Linked DNA regions of Homo sapiens: region 1 is linked to region 2. The links come from fine-mapping of genetic effects on plasma protein levels. A gene starts in region 2. The other region holds a variant in brackets. All regions are shown on one strand. Distances are between the middles of the regions.

The links. A credible set is the group of variants that fine-mapping cannot tell apart. PIP is the chance, under the fine-mapping model, that this variant and not a neighbour inherited with it causes the effect. Sun 2018 read protein levels with aptamers (SomaScan).
Region 1: its variant is the best candidate, but not a certain one, in a credible set for the plasma level of the SELP protein (Sun 2018, PIP 0.52).

Annotation. Positions count from the first base shown.
Region 1 is chr1:169,607,340-169,615,637 of GRCh38, forward strand. SELP (selectin P) reads right to left here. Exons shown (of 17, transcript NM_003005.4): 4 at 6,247-6,354; 5 at 5,590-5,775; 6 at 4,878-5,063; 7 at 4,153-4,338; 8 at 2,165-2,350. Among named protein-coding and RNA genes, the nearest start is that of SELP, 19 kb to the right of the region's middle. The variant C/T (reference allele first, on the strand shown) is at 3,713.
Region 2 is chr1:169,626,574-169,634,914 of GRCh38, forward strand. It overlaps SELP (selectin P), which reads right to left and starts at 3,551. Exons shown (of 17, transcript NM_003005.4): 1 at 3,499-3,551. The coding sequence starts at 3,501.

The sequences.
Region 1 (8,298 bases), 19 kb before region 2:
AACATGTGTCAATAATTTTTAAGTTATCATGCTTTTGGACCCAAGAATTTATGCTAAGTATGTAATCAAGATGCATACCAAAAAATCTATTTAGAGATTTTTGTGAAGACATTATTTGTAAGAGCGGAATATTGAAAACAAACACAAATGCCATTAATTGAGGGTGGAAATTAATGATGGTGGATCCATGAAAAGAATGTTAAAGGTCACTAAAAATAATATATTTTAACTTGTAAAGATAGGAGAGAGGTCTCAATGTATGATGTTAAATAAAAAATCAGAGTAAAAATTATAATATACACCATGATCTCAAAGATGTAAAATAAATAACCATATACGAAGAGAGCACACATATTCCATGTGTTGTCTCTTCTCATCTTTAAAATGGTAGTAATAATTGTAACTACCTCATAGAGTTAGACTGAGATCATAGAAAGTGCTCAATGAACATTAGCTGCTATATTAGTAGCAGTGGTAGTAATAGATAGTAATAATATCATTAAGGCTTTGCGTCACATGCAGACACTGAGTTCAGGAGTGGGAAACATTCAGAAGGCCTATGAAGGGGGTTAGTGAGACCACATCTCTGGATACTTAAGAGAATATCCAACTATCTTTTCTTGATTAGACATTTACCTTCCTGGAGACAACAATGGCTTGAATAATCCCTTATGATCCGTTTTAAGTGTGTCAAAGAGCTCATTGTGTCTTTTTCTCCCAGATAACATATACAATACATTCCATAACTCAGACTAAGTGTCAGCATCATGGTGTATAGCCATCTATTCTATTGCCTTCTTGTTTTTTCTTTTTTTTTTTTTTTGCTGTTCAATTTTTTATTATAGTGAGATATACGTAGCATGAAATTTAATTTACCATTTACCATGTCACCAATATCAAGTGTACAGTTCAGTGGTATTAAGCACATTCATATTATTGTGCCACCATCACCATTATTCATCTCCAAAACTCTTTTCATCATCTCAAACTGAAACTCCGTATCCATTAAACCATAACTCCCTATTTCCCTCTTCCGCCGAGCCCTTGGCAACCTCCGTTCTACTTTCTGTCTCTATGACTTTGACTACTCTAAGTTCCTCATATGAGTGGAATCATACAGTATTTGTCCTTTCATAGTGGCTTATTTCACTTAGCATAATGTCTTCAAGGTTCATTCATGTTTGTAGCAGAGGTCAGAATTTACTTCCTCTTTAAGGTTGAATAATATTCCACTGTAAGTATGTGGAATACTTTTTACTTATCCTTTCATCCATTGATGGGTGTTTGGGTTGCTTCCACATTTTAACTGTTGTGATTAATAGTGCTATGAACATGGGTGCACAAATATCTCTTCAAGACCTGCTTTCAAACCACTGCCTCATTTTAAAATCAAGGTATACTTAGGAACCCAGAGGAGTCACATAGATTGCTCAGAGGTCTCCGTAAATGAAAACACAAAATGTCAATATTACACTTCTGGAACATGACTTTAGTGTGAGGTACTCCTCGTAAAAAAAATAATAATCCTTGTGAACCACCACACCCGCCCCCCATGAGTGCCTTAGTATAAGAGCAAAAGATTAGAAACCTAACATATTGAAAGAGGATCATTTTGTCAAATCAGACCACAGACATGTGATTTATAAGGTAACATGTCATCATCATCATTTTCCCTATAAATCCTATAAGAGTTTTAAAGTTGCGTTTACACACATTAATTCACAACTACTAGTGAGGCAGGTAGGTAAGGCTGATAATAGTAGCCCCATTTTACAGAAGATACTGAGCCTCAGAGAGTCTAAACCACTAGCTTAAGGACAGGAAGTGACAGGACTGAGCTAAACACCTTGTCCATTACCCTTCCCCATCCCATGCTATTCCTCATGCATGATTTATTCCCCCAAGCCCCATCTTCTTCATTCCAATGCACCCTATATGTGTCAATCAGTGCAAACCTCACCTTGACTATACTATAGTGGACATGTGCCTAAGACTGGCTTCACGCACCGTTTCATCTCATCCCTGGTCCCAAGCACAAAGGACATGGCCCATAGTAGGTTCTCAGTGAATATCTGATAAAGAAAGGCATGCCAATGCTCAGTGCAGATGCTGATGCCTCTAACGAGCTGAGACACACAGAAAAACATTACCACTGTTACAGTACCTTGACAGACTGGGGCTGGTGCTGTCCACTGTCCCAAGTTATCACACCGAACTATATCGGCTCCTCTCAGCATGAAACCTTCAGCACAGCGGAAGCTACAGTTGGTGTCATACTGAAACGCTCTCAAGGATGGAGAGCAATCCATGCTTCCGTGGACAGGACTCTCCAGCGGCTCACACGAAATAGCTAAGTGGAAAAGGTATCTTCTAAAGCCAGGTAATGGAAGGGCCGGGTTCTTCCTCAGAAAAAATTCCTAGATGCTATATCTTTCCTGTCCACATTTTCAGTGTGTTCAGAACCCTAAAACCTCCATTTTCCAAAAGAGAGACTGCCTGGAACACCTTCCCATGCCCCTCTTGGCCTGACTCACTCTCACCTGCCCTTCAGGTCTCAGCTTAGACTTCCCTTTCCTTAGGAAGCCCTCCCTTCCCACCTTAACTAAGGGTAGAAGCCCCTGCAATGTGCTCCCACAGCCTCTGTTCTTGCGCTGTTCATACATGATTGTCATTCTTCCCCATTATACCGTGGTCTCCTCGAAGTTGGGCTCAGTCATTCATAGTTTTATTCTGGAGCTGAGCAGAGTGTTTTGTACATTGAAAGTGCTCATTAAATATTGACATTATCTGTGAAATTGAACCTGAAAAGAGTATATACAGGAAAATGCTGGACTTATAGGGAAAAAAAAAAAAGCTGGACTAGCATAGCTTATTGTTGACACTGTTACCTAGTCCTGTAAAATGATCCTGACCGGGCTTTGTCTCTAGAACACAGGATGTCATCCTAATCAGACTTCAGTTGCCAAGTGAGTGCAGCCAAAGTGAATTCCTGAGCACAATTAAGCCCTGAGTGACCTCAGTTCTGATAAAGATTGGTTTCCTCATGCTCTTCCTTGATAAAGCATTTCATTTCCAGGCTATTTCTGAAACTTTTCAAAGTGTAAAGACTACCTCTTTGCTCTGGGCTTTGACCTCTGGTTTTTACAGACTCAGAGCATTTAAGAACCAAAAATCCGGCTGAGCACAATGGCTCACACCTATAATCCCAGCACTTTGAGAGGCTGATGTGAGTGAATCACTTGAGGTCGGGAGTTTGAGACCAGCCTGGCCAAAGTGGTGAAACCCTAGTCTCTATTAAAAATACAAAAAGTTGCCTGTAATCCTAGCTATTCGGGAGGCTGAGGCAGGAGAATCGTTTGAACCTGGGAGGCAGAGGTTGCAGTGAGCTGAGATCGTGCCACTGCACTTCAGCCTGGGCGACAGAGTGAGACTCTGTCTCAAAACAAACAAACAAACAAACAAACAAACAAACAAACAAAAACACCAAAATCCTCTAGTGTTTCTCTCTTCTCTCTTATGTTTTAGGCAAGAAAAGTGAGGTTCAGAAGTGTTAAGTGACTTCTCTAAAGTCTCATAGCTAGATAGTAGCAGGGTTGGGCTTGTCATCCAGGTCTGGGAATTCACTAATCTATCGTAAATTTCCTATTCTCCCATTACCACTGTCCGCCTTATAAACTGAGGGTGTGAGGCAATTGCAGAGAATTCATTTTGG[C/T]GGAATTATGTAATTGCCTGGGATTGCATCACACACTTTTTCGATGCAGTGTTCCTTCCTTTGCTTCTTTGTCAAAGGCTACCCTCAAAGACTACATGGTGAACCACTCTCTTTAGCCACCTTAGCCGCTGCTCCCAACTCCCTCTCAAGTATAGGACATGGTCCTATACCTCGGATATGTCAGTAGAGCAGAAGCTCTATGCTAGGTACTTTATACATGCTATTTAATTGTATACTTTTTATGTACTTAATCCTCACAAGCACCTTGCAATTCTTAGCTCCATTTCACAGATGAGAAAACCATGGTTCCTGGAGGTTGAAGAGCTTGCTCTAGTGCAAGAACTTAGAAGAGATCACCCCGACACTGAGAGCCCTTGGCCTCTCTACCATGCCATGATTCCTTCTTGGACAGAATGGAGGTTGCTAATGAAAAATCCTACCCTCACAGGTTGGCAAGGGTGCAGACCAGTGTCCAGAGTCAATGCAGCGGAGCATGTCCAAGCCCCTCACTCTGTAGCCGGGCTGGCACTCAAATTTACAGCTGGAGCCATAGGCAAAAGCAGTGAGCGGATGAACACAGTCCATGGTTCCTTCACTGGGGGCTTCCAGGTGCTGACACTGCACAGCTGGAGAGAATAACCAAGGATAAAGAGAAAGATACTGAGAAAGGAGAAAAGCCACACAGAGAGCAATGGTGGAACCACCTCTGAAATGCAGGTGGAGCTAGCAAGATGTAAAGGTCAAGAGACCCTAATGATGTTTGTCCAGACTTGGATTACCAGTTCCCAGGGTGATCTGAGTCTGTTAAAAACAAAGATTCCTCCAAGCTGTATTCTTAATGTCCTCTATTCCCTATACTTCTATAAACCTGTCTCAGTAGGTCTTCTAGTGTCCACTTATAGATGTAGAGGCCACCCTTTCTAATCTTATGGGGAAATTATGAATGAGGCCATTCTGAAACTGCCTGCATTTGTGTTTGGGGAAAGAAAGGAATTTTTTTCCTTTCTCATCTCAGATGAACCCAATCTAGCTGAATGGCAGGTAGGAAGAGAATTAAATTTTGGCAATTCAGGCCAGCTTCTCCATAAGCTGGTCAATTTCATCTATGCACTAAGTAAGGACTGGGTGCAATGGACATTATACATCCCAACTACCTGAAACTCACCTTTACACACTGGGGCTGGGGCTGTCCATACCCCCGAGGCTGTGCATTGCACCACTTCCGGTCCAACTAATGCAAATCCCTCTTCACAACTGAAGCTGCAGCTAGACTGATGCTGGAATGCTTTTGCAGAATGAAGGCAGGTCATGTTTCCTCGTTCAGGAATCTTCAGGGGTGGGCACTGGGCAGCTAAAACCAACCACAGAATAATAGTGTGAGTCCTTGGACAAATTTTGTCCATCACCTTGGAAGCCTTCAAATTCTGCAGCAGTCACACCTTCCCAAAGTGGCAGGCAGGTTGATGCACTAGAATGGTTAAATGGTGTTTTCAATAGCTGCTTGGAAAGATCAAACACCCTTGTTTTTCATGTAGAGAAGTTAGGTAAAATTATCAAATTAATAATTCTTAACCCCTAAGTCCTCATCATTGTACTCTGTTTACTTTACAATTAACAAAGGGAAAGAGGGGTCCCTTTGTAATGTTTTTGCCTGCGAATCAACAATTAAACTGACTAAGTCACTCTACCCATAAAAAAATACCATGAAAATTGAAATTAATGTTACTCTGGTTGACAGTTAACAGTGATAACCAGAGTTTTCCATCTAACCTAGATGGTCATTATTTCTCACATTTTTTAATGGAGAAAGCTCATTGTGTCCTCTTCTCCCCCAAAATTCTATGTCAGTGAGGATGAAAAGAATAAGGTCTACATACCTAAACACTGTGGAGGCTTATTTGTCCAGATTCCAGAAGCCAAGCATTCCAGCTTGCTGGGCCCATTTACTTGGTACCCGTCAGTGCAGTGGAAGCTGCACTGCGAGTTAAAAGAGAAGTTTCCCAGAGGGTGGCTGCAGTTCATGAGCACGTGTTGAGGGAGCTCAAGTTCTCCACACTCTCTCACTGCAGGAGACAAAATAGTGATTTTTATTTTCCATGTAGAATTAACAGCAATGTCATGTTTGCTGAAAGCTGTAACTATTTGTGTAACCCTCTTAACTCTAATTTTCTAAACTTTTAACCCAAGCTATCCATCTCTACTTGGTCTCTTTGTATTGGCTGCATCTTGGGAAATAGTCATTCTTTCACAAGTTTTTACTTCAAACAAGTAAAATTAGCCTGAAAGTTCTGTTGGTTTTGCTTCCTTTCCCTTTCCCTTTTCTTTTTTGAAATTTATGAGTCAATGTTTTCTCCCAAGAATAAAATGTTTTTACCTAGAGTGTGTGTCTAGGGACACTGAGTGGAGGAGACAGATGATAGAGGGGGGCTGGTACCATCCTATTCTCACTGGAGAGACTTCAACATGATTTATTTACTTCTTGGCATCATCTCTAGCATAAAACCAAAATAATATCAACAAAAAGGAAGCCTCACCGTATTCACATTCTGGCCCATAGAATCCAGGGTAACAGGAGCAGGTGTAGTTCCCGATGGTCTCGAGGCACTCTCCTTGTTTGCTGCAGGACATGTCCTGGCAGGAGGCTGCATAGATATGGAAAGGTCAGAGTCATGGACATTCACAGATGTGAGGAAAGGCTGAATTCTCGTTTTGACCACAGACTCATCCCCTCTCAGATAGGACTGAGCTAGCCAGACAAGAGGGAAGCACAGTATCTTCTAGAGAGCCAACCTGTCCCTTGTGAAAAGCATTGTAGGGGCCTGCTGGAGTATTGCGTGGCTCCCATTTCATACTGCATTTAGTATTTCCTAAGGAGGGTATTGTTGTGTGTGGACACAGAGGGACAAATGGAGCCAATGACAGATGTGTGGACAGAGAAACCCTATGTGGTACAAAATGGGCTGTGGTTTTCAAACCAAGCATTGTTTTATTATGGAAGCCCAATGTCACGTATTACTGCATTGAGGTTAGGCACCAGATGTGGGGCGTGGGGTCACACAGGTGTGATATGAATCCTGGCTCTGCTGCCTACTTGCTATGTGACCTTAGGCAAGTTACTTCTCTGAGCTCAGCTTGCACAGTGTTAGAGCCCAAACCCTTTCACCTTTCATTTGCTTCAAATCTATGTCCAGAATCCTACAGTGGAGAAACAGAGGAGCCAAATGAGATGTTTAAGACGTACTCATGGTAAAGGACAAACAATCTTATGAGGTGATGTTTCATGAGTCTGAATACAGCAGGCGAAGAGAGTACTGACTATGGCTGAACTGCCATGTCCTCTTCACCAAGATAGTGCCACTCAGGTGACAGAATAGAGAAGGGCCATGGTTTCTTTCCTGCAAGAAAGTATTTTAGGGTATATGCACTTGATGAGAATTAGTATTAGAATTGATACTTTCAAAGCACTGAGATGTTTTTATTAATGAGGTCATAGTTGGGGGTAAGTTCTATGGCTGAACTGTTTTCTGGTGGTTACTTCCTCTGTCTTAAGCCCTGTCCACATGCTGGTTCACTTGGAAGTATATTACAAAAGAATATCCATATGTCATATGTGGATATGCTGTGCTACATGATCTCTATGTTTCCTCTCAATTCTGAGATACTAAAATTCTATAAACCATGCAAGGTTCTATAGGAAGAAGTTCCTGTGGCAGCCAGTGAATTTGGTGAAGCTGCACTGAGACACTGGGAAGGGTTCAAATAAAGAGAAGATGTAGGAGGCAATAGCAGCTAAATGGATACAGGTTTGGTCCACATCCTATTCACTTCGCTCCCTGACCTTAACCCCACCAATGTCTTAATACCTTACAGTAGCAACCCCTGCCTGCCCTATGTTCTTGGAGCATACAAATGTTTCCCCAATTATAGCTTCCTTGGGATCTCAGAACTCTAGGGGAAAAAAAGAGACAATGTTCTGTATTCTATCCCATTTCAGGGTTTCCTGAATAGATAGGTTAGCAATTTGTCTATTCCTTTGGATCTCCAGGGAGAAGATGATTTATTCATGATGATTCAATGAATAAATCTTTTTTCGATAGCCTGCTCTGAGGTCTAATAATTCCTGACATGTGGAGAATTATTCCAACAATCAAACTTAATTTCATATTACAGTAAATATATCTATTTCTCATCTCCCATGGATAATTGATGCTTCTCTACATCCTTTACATCTTAGATGGCAAAACGACAATCAATGGTAGTGGCTGCTTAGAGTACTGTGTTGGTGGAGATAAAACCCATCTGTGTTCAGGTAAAGTTGTATTAATTAGTGATGTCTCTACCACTGTTGTGGGTTAGAGGAGTGTCATCATTTATGCCAGTAATTTTTTATCTTTTTTCTATCTTGCAATTTTTTTGGCAAGCTTTATTGAGGAAGACTGTCTTGCAGAAATGGATTTTGAAGGTTGGGTGTGAAGGGGAAGTAGTGGCATATTGAAACAGCTAGTGGCAGTCAAGGTTATCTGATAAGAGATAATTCTAGGGAGGCATAGCCCAGAAAGGGGTAGAGAGCTGACTGGGAGAGCAGT
Region 2 (8,341 bases):
CTAGAGGTTAACTGAAAAGGTAGTTTGAGACCATATCTTGTGGGTCACAAATACCAGTTGGCAGAAGGGATACTTCTGAACAGAGAAGTATCATGAACACATGCACTTAATGGTGGTATGATTTTTTTTGTGGGGCTGGGGGACAGGGTCTTGCTCTGTTGCCCAGGCTGAAGTGCAGTGGCATGATCTGGGTTCACTGAAACCTCCACCTCCTGGCCTCAAGTGATCTTCCCATCTCAGCCTCCTGAGTAACTGGGACTACAGGCATGCATCACCACACCCGGCTAATTTTTTGTAGAGATAAGTTCTCACTATATTGCCCAGGCTGGCCTGGAGCCCCTGGGCTCAAGCAATACTTTTTCTTTGGCCTCCAAAAATGCTGATATTATAGGGGTGAGAGTAGTGCGATACTTTTTTTTTTTTAAATGAGTTACAATCAGGGAGATTGCACTGCAAAAGAAGAGGCTATTGCAATGGTCCCAGTGAGAGTTAAAGAGGGACAGGTTTGGTCTGGCATCAGTGGGAATGCAAATAGGGGAGGTGAATATGAGAGTTGTTGAGGATGCAGAACTATACAACTTGTTGGTAGCAAAGCCCAGATGTTACAAGCTATTACAGCTAATACATTAGTTCCCTTATGTTTCTGGACGGTGGTGGTGTTAGTGGTGTGGCACAGATATTGGTAGCCCAGCTTAGGGGTGGAAAAAGAAATACAGTGAGAAAAGAGGTTGTCTCTAAGCCAAAGAGCAAATTATGAATATAGACAAGAAGGGACCCAGGACATCAACACTTAGAATCCAAGCATATATTTAATTTAGACTACCAATTGCCATTATTTTGAGTAAAATATTAGCATTAAAAATAAAGTACGACACTTAAAATTTTTTAAAAAGTCTATTGGATCAGAGATGAGTTATATCTCTACAAATAGTGAGGATTTGCTCTGTATTTGACTTCATGAAGTTTCTGATTTACTTTTTAATCAAAAAGATTAGACACCTTGAAGACAATATAATGAATGTCATTTATAAAACCACTGTGTGCCTACTCTCTAGGTTTAGGTCCAGGGTTTTTTCTAAACACAGTTTTTTATGTAGTAAGTCATTTTGATTTTTGAGGATTTGATCAATAAGCTTCTACTTAAAGATCTCTGAAGATGCACATTCTAAGAGCTGGTGGCTAGCCCAGGAGAGTCTGAACTATTTTAGTTGCATTTTGAAAAACAGGTAATGAAAAGAAGAGTAAGGACTGGAAGCCACATAAGGTGGTTAAAAGGTATAAATGGACGAAAATCCAGACCTGCTCCTTAGCCCACTAAAACTTTTTTTTTGTTTTGTTTTTGAGACAAGTCTTGCTCTGTCACCCAGGCTGGAGTTCAGTGGTGTGATCTCAACTCACTGCCACCTCCACCTCCTGGGTTCAAGAGTTTGTCCTGCCTCAGCCTCCTGAGTAGCTGGGATTACAGGCACATGCCAACATGCCCAGCCAGTTTTTGTAAGTTTAGTAAATATGGTGTTTCACCATGTTGGCCAGGCTGCTCTTGAACTCTCGACTTCAAGTGATCTATGCGCCTCGGCCTCCCAAAGTGCTGGGATTACAGGCATGAGCCACTGAGCCCGGCCATAGCCCGCTAAAACTTTGACAAACATCAGTGCAATTTAACTATAAGTTCCCAATCAAGAGCTACTCCTCTGAGATCTATCTGATTGAAAATACCCCACCAGAAAAACCTTATCCTCATTTTCTCAGGTCCTAAAAGTTAATTAAAGCCACTCTCTGAACTTGAAGCAAAATTTACACAGGCAGTTTGAGGTTTCTGAATCTTTGGGGCCAAATGTGCTCAGAGGAAAAGGAAGAGGTCTTGTCTTTGAAATATTAAAAACCATTCCAGGGCTGGGGCCTTAGCACTTCGCTGTAGAGCTCAAGCCTAATTTCAGGGTACCAAGAGAGGGGCTTCTGAACATAAAGCCCAGGAGGCAATCGAGAAGGGTTCTTACCCTGGGATCCACATGGAGGTCTGGGAACCTCCTGTGGTTGTCTCTAAAGGTTGGTGTTTATGTCGATGTTTTTGCTTTCATCTGGGAAAGACAAGTTGTAACTTTCATCAAAATCTCAAAGAACTCTCTGATCCAATAAGTTCATACCTTTGAAATAGAGGAGGATGCCAAGGAGAGTAGAAGGAAGAGAGGAATAACTGCTCATTTAAGTTAACCAATTCAGAAGTATGACATGCAAAAAGACAGGACAAAAGTAATTCATATCCTTAGGTCATTGTGGTTCAAACTTAAGACAGGCTCAAACTCCTTCCTCTTCTCTTTATCATACTCTTATTCCTGTTTTCCCCAACACAGAAACCCACATTATAAGTACTTGAAAAGTGTGCTATAGTAAAGCAAAGCAGTAGGATGAATCAGGTGTATGCGGTACTTTTTTCTGGAGTCCCACAGAAAGGTGCTCAAAAACAGAGACCTGCCTGGTTCCTCCATAGCCACAGACTGCAGGATTTCGGACCCTGGGACTATGTGGGATACTCTTGGAAAGTCTGAGGAAAATTGGAAGTAGCTTAACCATGTGCATTTTATCTAGGTGCATATAACATTGCTGAGTTCAAAATGCCTAGCTATCCTTGGATCTTCCCTGAATTAGAAGTAGCCTAACCACGTGCATCTTATCCATGAGCATATAACATTGCTGAGTTCAAAATGCCTAGCTATCCTTGGATCTTCCCTGAATCCTAAACCCCACTATTCCTAAGAATTTTCTTTTTATTGTAACAATAATGGCTAACATTTACTAATCACTTACTATGTGTCAGGCTCAGATCTGGATGCTTTTCAGCAAAATCTTATTTAATCCTCATGATGAAACTATAGAGTATTATTACTATATCCATTTTATAGAAGAAGAAACTGAGTCATTAACAAGATTGAGTCTTAGGGCAGAAAAGGAAACTATGTGGATATTCCAGATCAGTCCCAGAAGATTCATAGGCTCACAGAAAGAAATGGGAGGGATGGGGATGAGAAACTATTCAATTGTAAGCTTGTCCCAGGGCACCTACCCAGTCTTCCATTTATTCCATCATTTATCCCAGAGAGAAGTACAGTCTTGGAAAATGGGGTGACAGGTTTACCATGATCTATTCTCAGAGAGCCCCTATAAATTCTAGTAGGAGGAACAGCAGCTGCGGAGCCAGAGGACAGGCCCCAGATCCCAACATCATGTAGCCTAACAGTGAAGCTTAGATAAAACACAGCCTCTGTAAACCACGATGGCTTTATTTGTAAAATAGAAATAGCAACCTCAACTCACAAGGGTGTTGGGAGGGTCAAAGTGGACAGCAAGTTTAAAAGTACTCACAAAATCTAATAGGCAATTCAACATAAAACTCCATGGCTATCGCTGTTCCTCACTTTCTGAACCTTTACCTGCCTGACTTTACTCCATACCACTCCAACTCACTTCAACCACTTCCCATGCAGAAAAAAATAAACTCACCATCTCCTCTGTGACTCTGCTGGTTTTCTGCCTTCTGCCCAACCCAGACTGCTTACAGTCTCACTGCCTCCCCTCAGTGTCAGGCTGTTTAGAAAAACAACTTCCTATTCACATTCCAGAAACTCACCACAGCCCTTCCCATGAAGTTAGAATGTTGATAATGCAAGAGTAATGTTGGCAGCTTAGAAATAGTGGTTGCCAAGAGGCAAGGGGTCACCCCCTTCCATGGAAGATGGTCTGGAGGCAGGCGCAAGGTGAATTACTCCTGGATATCCCAGGCTGAGCAATGTGGGAACAGTACACACACAAAGGTTTCCTTGGATTATGATATAAGCTCCAATTTAAAGTAGTACATTTGGAAAACATGCTTTGAATTAATTACAATGTGATTTTCCAGTGCCCATTTTCCAGTAATTATGACATGTCAGTGAATGTTTACTATTCCGGCAGCCTTCTGAGGGAAAGAAGCAAAATTAGTAGCACAAAAAAAAATAGAGAGAAATGGAAAAAGCCACTAACAGTTTTCTGGCGCTTGGGAAATTTTATTGGTAAGTTTCAAAATGACGTATTAAATAGACATAGGTCATGTGAAAGGAATTCTGCTTCTTATATCAGAAATAAAAAGGTATACAAATAGATACCTTTTTATTTTCCTCTTCCCATGGGATGTGTAGGACCAAAAAGCTGTTGGCATAGTGGTTAAGACTTCAGCTGTGCTGTTAAACTGCCCGAGACCCATCCTGGCTCCTCTTCTGGCTATCTACTGGGCAAACTACTTAAGCTCTCTATGCCTCTGTTTCCTCAACTGTAAAACAGAATAACAGAACTTGCCTCACCGGGTTGTTGTAGGATGAAATGAGTTAATATGTACAGAGTGATTGAAATGACACTTGGCCCACAATTGATGCTCAACAAATGTTAGTGATTATTATTACTTTTCAGATTGATCTCAGACAGCAAAATCAAGTATCAAGTATTTAGTTTCAAGTCAGAAAGCCATAACTCCTATTTATACTCTTGGAATTCTATTGTACAGTAGTAGGTATTATTCTTCATTCACTTCATGATGGTTACAGCTTGTAAATAGGCATCTCATGGATAAATTTAAAATGGAATGAAGTAGAAACATTGGAAGAAAGTCTAAAGGTAAAGATGAATTAGGGTATATAAGGCTGCATTTGCACGTTGGAATTTGGGACCAAGAAGAAAAAATTAATTATATAGTAGAAGTAGAAAAGATGGTGAAGGAAATGCTGTTGAAGGAATGACTGTAGGGGAATAAGGGAAACTTAGAGAGAGGAAAAAATGAGGAACTTCTTGGCAGCATGATGCAGTTCAGAGTCCAGACCCTAGAGTCAGACTGCCTGGCTCCACCACCTACCAGCTGTGTTGGGCGTTACTAATCTCCCTATAACTCAGTTTCCTCAGTGATGTGGTTTGGCTGTGTCCCCACCCAAATCTCATCTGGAATTGTAGCTCCCATAATTCCCACAGGTTGTGGGAGGCACCTGGTAGATCATTGAATCATGGGGGTGGTTTCCCCCATACTGTTCTCATGGTAGTGAATAAGTCGCATGAGAGCTGATGGTTTTATAAGGGGAAACCCCTTTTGTTTGGTTCTCATTTCTCTCTCTTCCCTGCTGCCATGTAAGACGTGTCTTTTGCTTTCTACCATGATTGTGAGGACTCCCCATCCACGTGGAACTGTGAGTCCATTAAACCTTTTTTTTTTTAATAAGTTATCCAGTCTCGGGTATGTCTCTATCAGCATCATGAGAACAGAATAATACACTCAGCAATGTGAATAATAAGGATAATAATCACCAAATACATAGACATGTAAGGACCATTAAATGAATTTAATGTGTTTGGAACAATACCTATCACGCTGTTAAGTGTAAGTTTAAGTGTTGGCTATTATTCTATAAGACTTGCCTCCATGTCTTTCTGTTCTTACTTTCACTCACCAGCCCCTCTTTTTGGCATTGCCTCATGTTAGAAAAAATATATATAGTCTCAGATGGGGATGAGGAAGTGTGGTATGTAGACTAGTAGGTTCTTTTTTTGAGACAGGGTCTCACTCTGCGGCCCAGGCTGGAGTGCAGTGGCATGATTACTGCTTGCTCCAGCCTTGACCTCCTGGGCTCAAGCAATTCTCCCACCTCAGCCTCCTGAGTAGCTGGGACTATAGATGTGTGCCATCACTACTGGCTAATTAAAAAAAAAAATCTCTAGAGATAGGGTCTCTCTATATTTCCCAGGCTGGTCTTGAATTCCTGGGCTCAAGTGATCCTTTCACCTCAGCCTCCCAAAATGTTGGGATTACAGGCATGAGCCACCATGCCCAGCCTGGTAGTTTCTTATTTATAATAAGTTTGATATTAATAAGTTCAATTGATCATATGTTTTTAAGTTTGATATTGTTAAATTTTAGTGAATATAAGGAAAGCATAAAAAGATTCCTATGCAGGTGACATTAGCAAGATGGTGGAGTAGGAGATGTCAGCCTTATGCCCCAACAAAAAAACAAACATAGACAGTTATACACAAACCAAAATAGCCCTCACAAGGGTGGGGAGTTGGGGGATGGGGCTCAAGAGCCTGTTAAAGAATTTGGAACAACACAATGGAGAAAAGAAAGAATATCCATGTAGAAGAATCACCGGTGAGACTGGCATATATGAGACACCAGGAGATAGCTACGAATAAAGAAATTTGTAGGCTATCTGTGTCAGTCATGTGACACAGAGCCACTGAGGCCCCCAGTGTCCTGCTCCACAGAGGACACTGGCATCTTTTATCCAACAGCCATTCCCATAGCAGGATGCTAAAAAGGGAAACACAGTTGCACTACCCCTCACACCCCCTCACCAAGAAGCAGCTATTGTTGCACTGCCCCAGGACTGGGGCCAGGGTTACCACCTCTCACAAGTCTATGTGTGTTCCTGATCCCCAAAAGTTGTGGCTGCTCTACAGATATTCACACTCTGGACTGTGGCTCTGTGGCTGCAGTGCACCTCCTCATGTCTCAGACACTGGAGTCACTGCTGTTGTGAACTAGATCTCACCCTGGGACCCCAAGCCAAGTTCTCTCTGTGAAAGTCTTTGCTCCAGACACTAGTTCAGCCACTGTAGAAAGGTAACCCATATTCTCAACTCCAGAGCTGCTGTAGTAATGTGCACACCTGCGCTCCAGACCCTGTCTCTGAGGCTGTACTACACACACCCACACCTCCAACACCAGAGCCACCACTATAGTGAGCTAGTGAACACCCTGGGTCCTAGAGTCAAGGTTTCTCTGTGCCTGTCCATGCTCTAGTCACCAGCTCAGCCACCAAGGAGAGCTAGCCCACACCCTGGATCCTGGAGCCACTGTAGCTCTGCGTATGCATGCAGTAAAGTCCCTGGCTCCTTAGCTGCTTTATAAGTACCTGCATTTTACACACCATTATCAATGTGATAGTAAGTATGCCTGTGCCTTGGGCACTGGTACCATTGCTACAATTGAATCTGGTGCTGTGGTCCCTCCATGCATGCCCATGCTTCAGGCCTTGGCTCTTGGCCACTCCATGGGCACTGTTCATCAGACACCAGTGTCACCACCACCAGGAGCAGGCCTGCAAGTTAGACCTAATTCCAAGAGGGATGTCCTCAGTCATGACTTCCCAGGTGGGGAAAAAAAGAGATATGGAGGACTTGTCACAATTGAAAACCTCAACAGCCTCATTGCCACTGTAGATACCCACAGTGTTGGCCTCTAAGGATCCCTGTAGTATTCACTAACACCAACCTCAGCTGACAGATCTGCATGGAGACCACACAGCTTTGCCCCTACTGAAGTCAGAACTTTTGCATCCCACCCAGCCAGCATCCTCGCATTATTCCACATAAGAAGGTATTTCTCCACCAAAGTCAGCCCATACAGCCTGAAATTGGGGCAGATCCACCAGATGCTCAGACAGCAGTGTAAGGCAGCAAGAAACATGAAAACCCAAATTAAAATATCACCACCTAAGAAACACAATAATTTCCCAGTAGCTGACCCAAAAGAAATGGAGTACTACAAATGGCCTGACAATGGATTCAAGATAATTGTTTTTAAAGAAGCTCAGTTACTTTGAAGCAAACACAGAGAAACAATTTGGTGAAATCAGAGAAACAATAAATGCACAACATAAGAAATGTAACAGAAAGATTGAAATCATAAAAGAAATTGGAGCTGAAAAATATAATGAATGAAGTGAGAAATGCAGTAGAAATCACCAGTAGCAGACTTGATCAAGCAGAAGAAAGAATCTGTGAACTGAAGACAGGTTTTTGAAAATATACAGTGAGAGGAGAAAAAAGAATGAAAAGAAATGATGAAAGCCTACAAGATTTATGGGACAGCATCAAGAGAGCTAACATTCAGCCAGACTCAGTGGCTCATGCCATAATCCCAGCGCTTTGGGAGGCCAAGGTGAGTGGATCACCTGAGGTCAGGAGTCAAGACCAGCCTGACCAACATGGTGAAACCCAGTCTCTACTAAAAATACAAAAAAATTAGCCAGGGATTGTGGCACATGCCTGTAATCCCAGCTACTGGGGAGACTGAGGCAGCAGAATCTCTTCAACCTAGAAGGCAAAGGTTGCAGTGAGCTGAGATCATGCCACTGCACTCCAGCCTGGGTGACAGAGTGAGACTGCATCTCAAAAAATAAAAACAAAAATTAAATTAAAAATTAAAAAAGAGAGCTAATGTTCACATTACAGTAGTTTAAGAAGGAGAAAATAGAGGAAAAGGGGGTCAGAAAGCATATTTAAAGATTGCTAGCTGAAAATTTCCCAAATCTGAAATAAAATA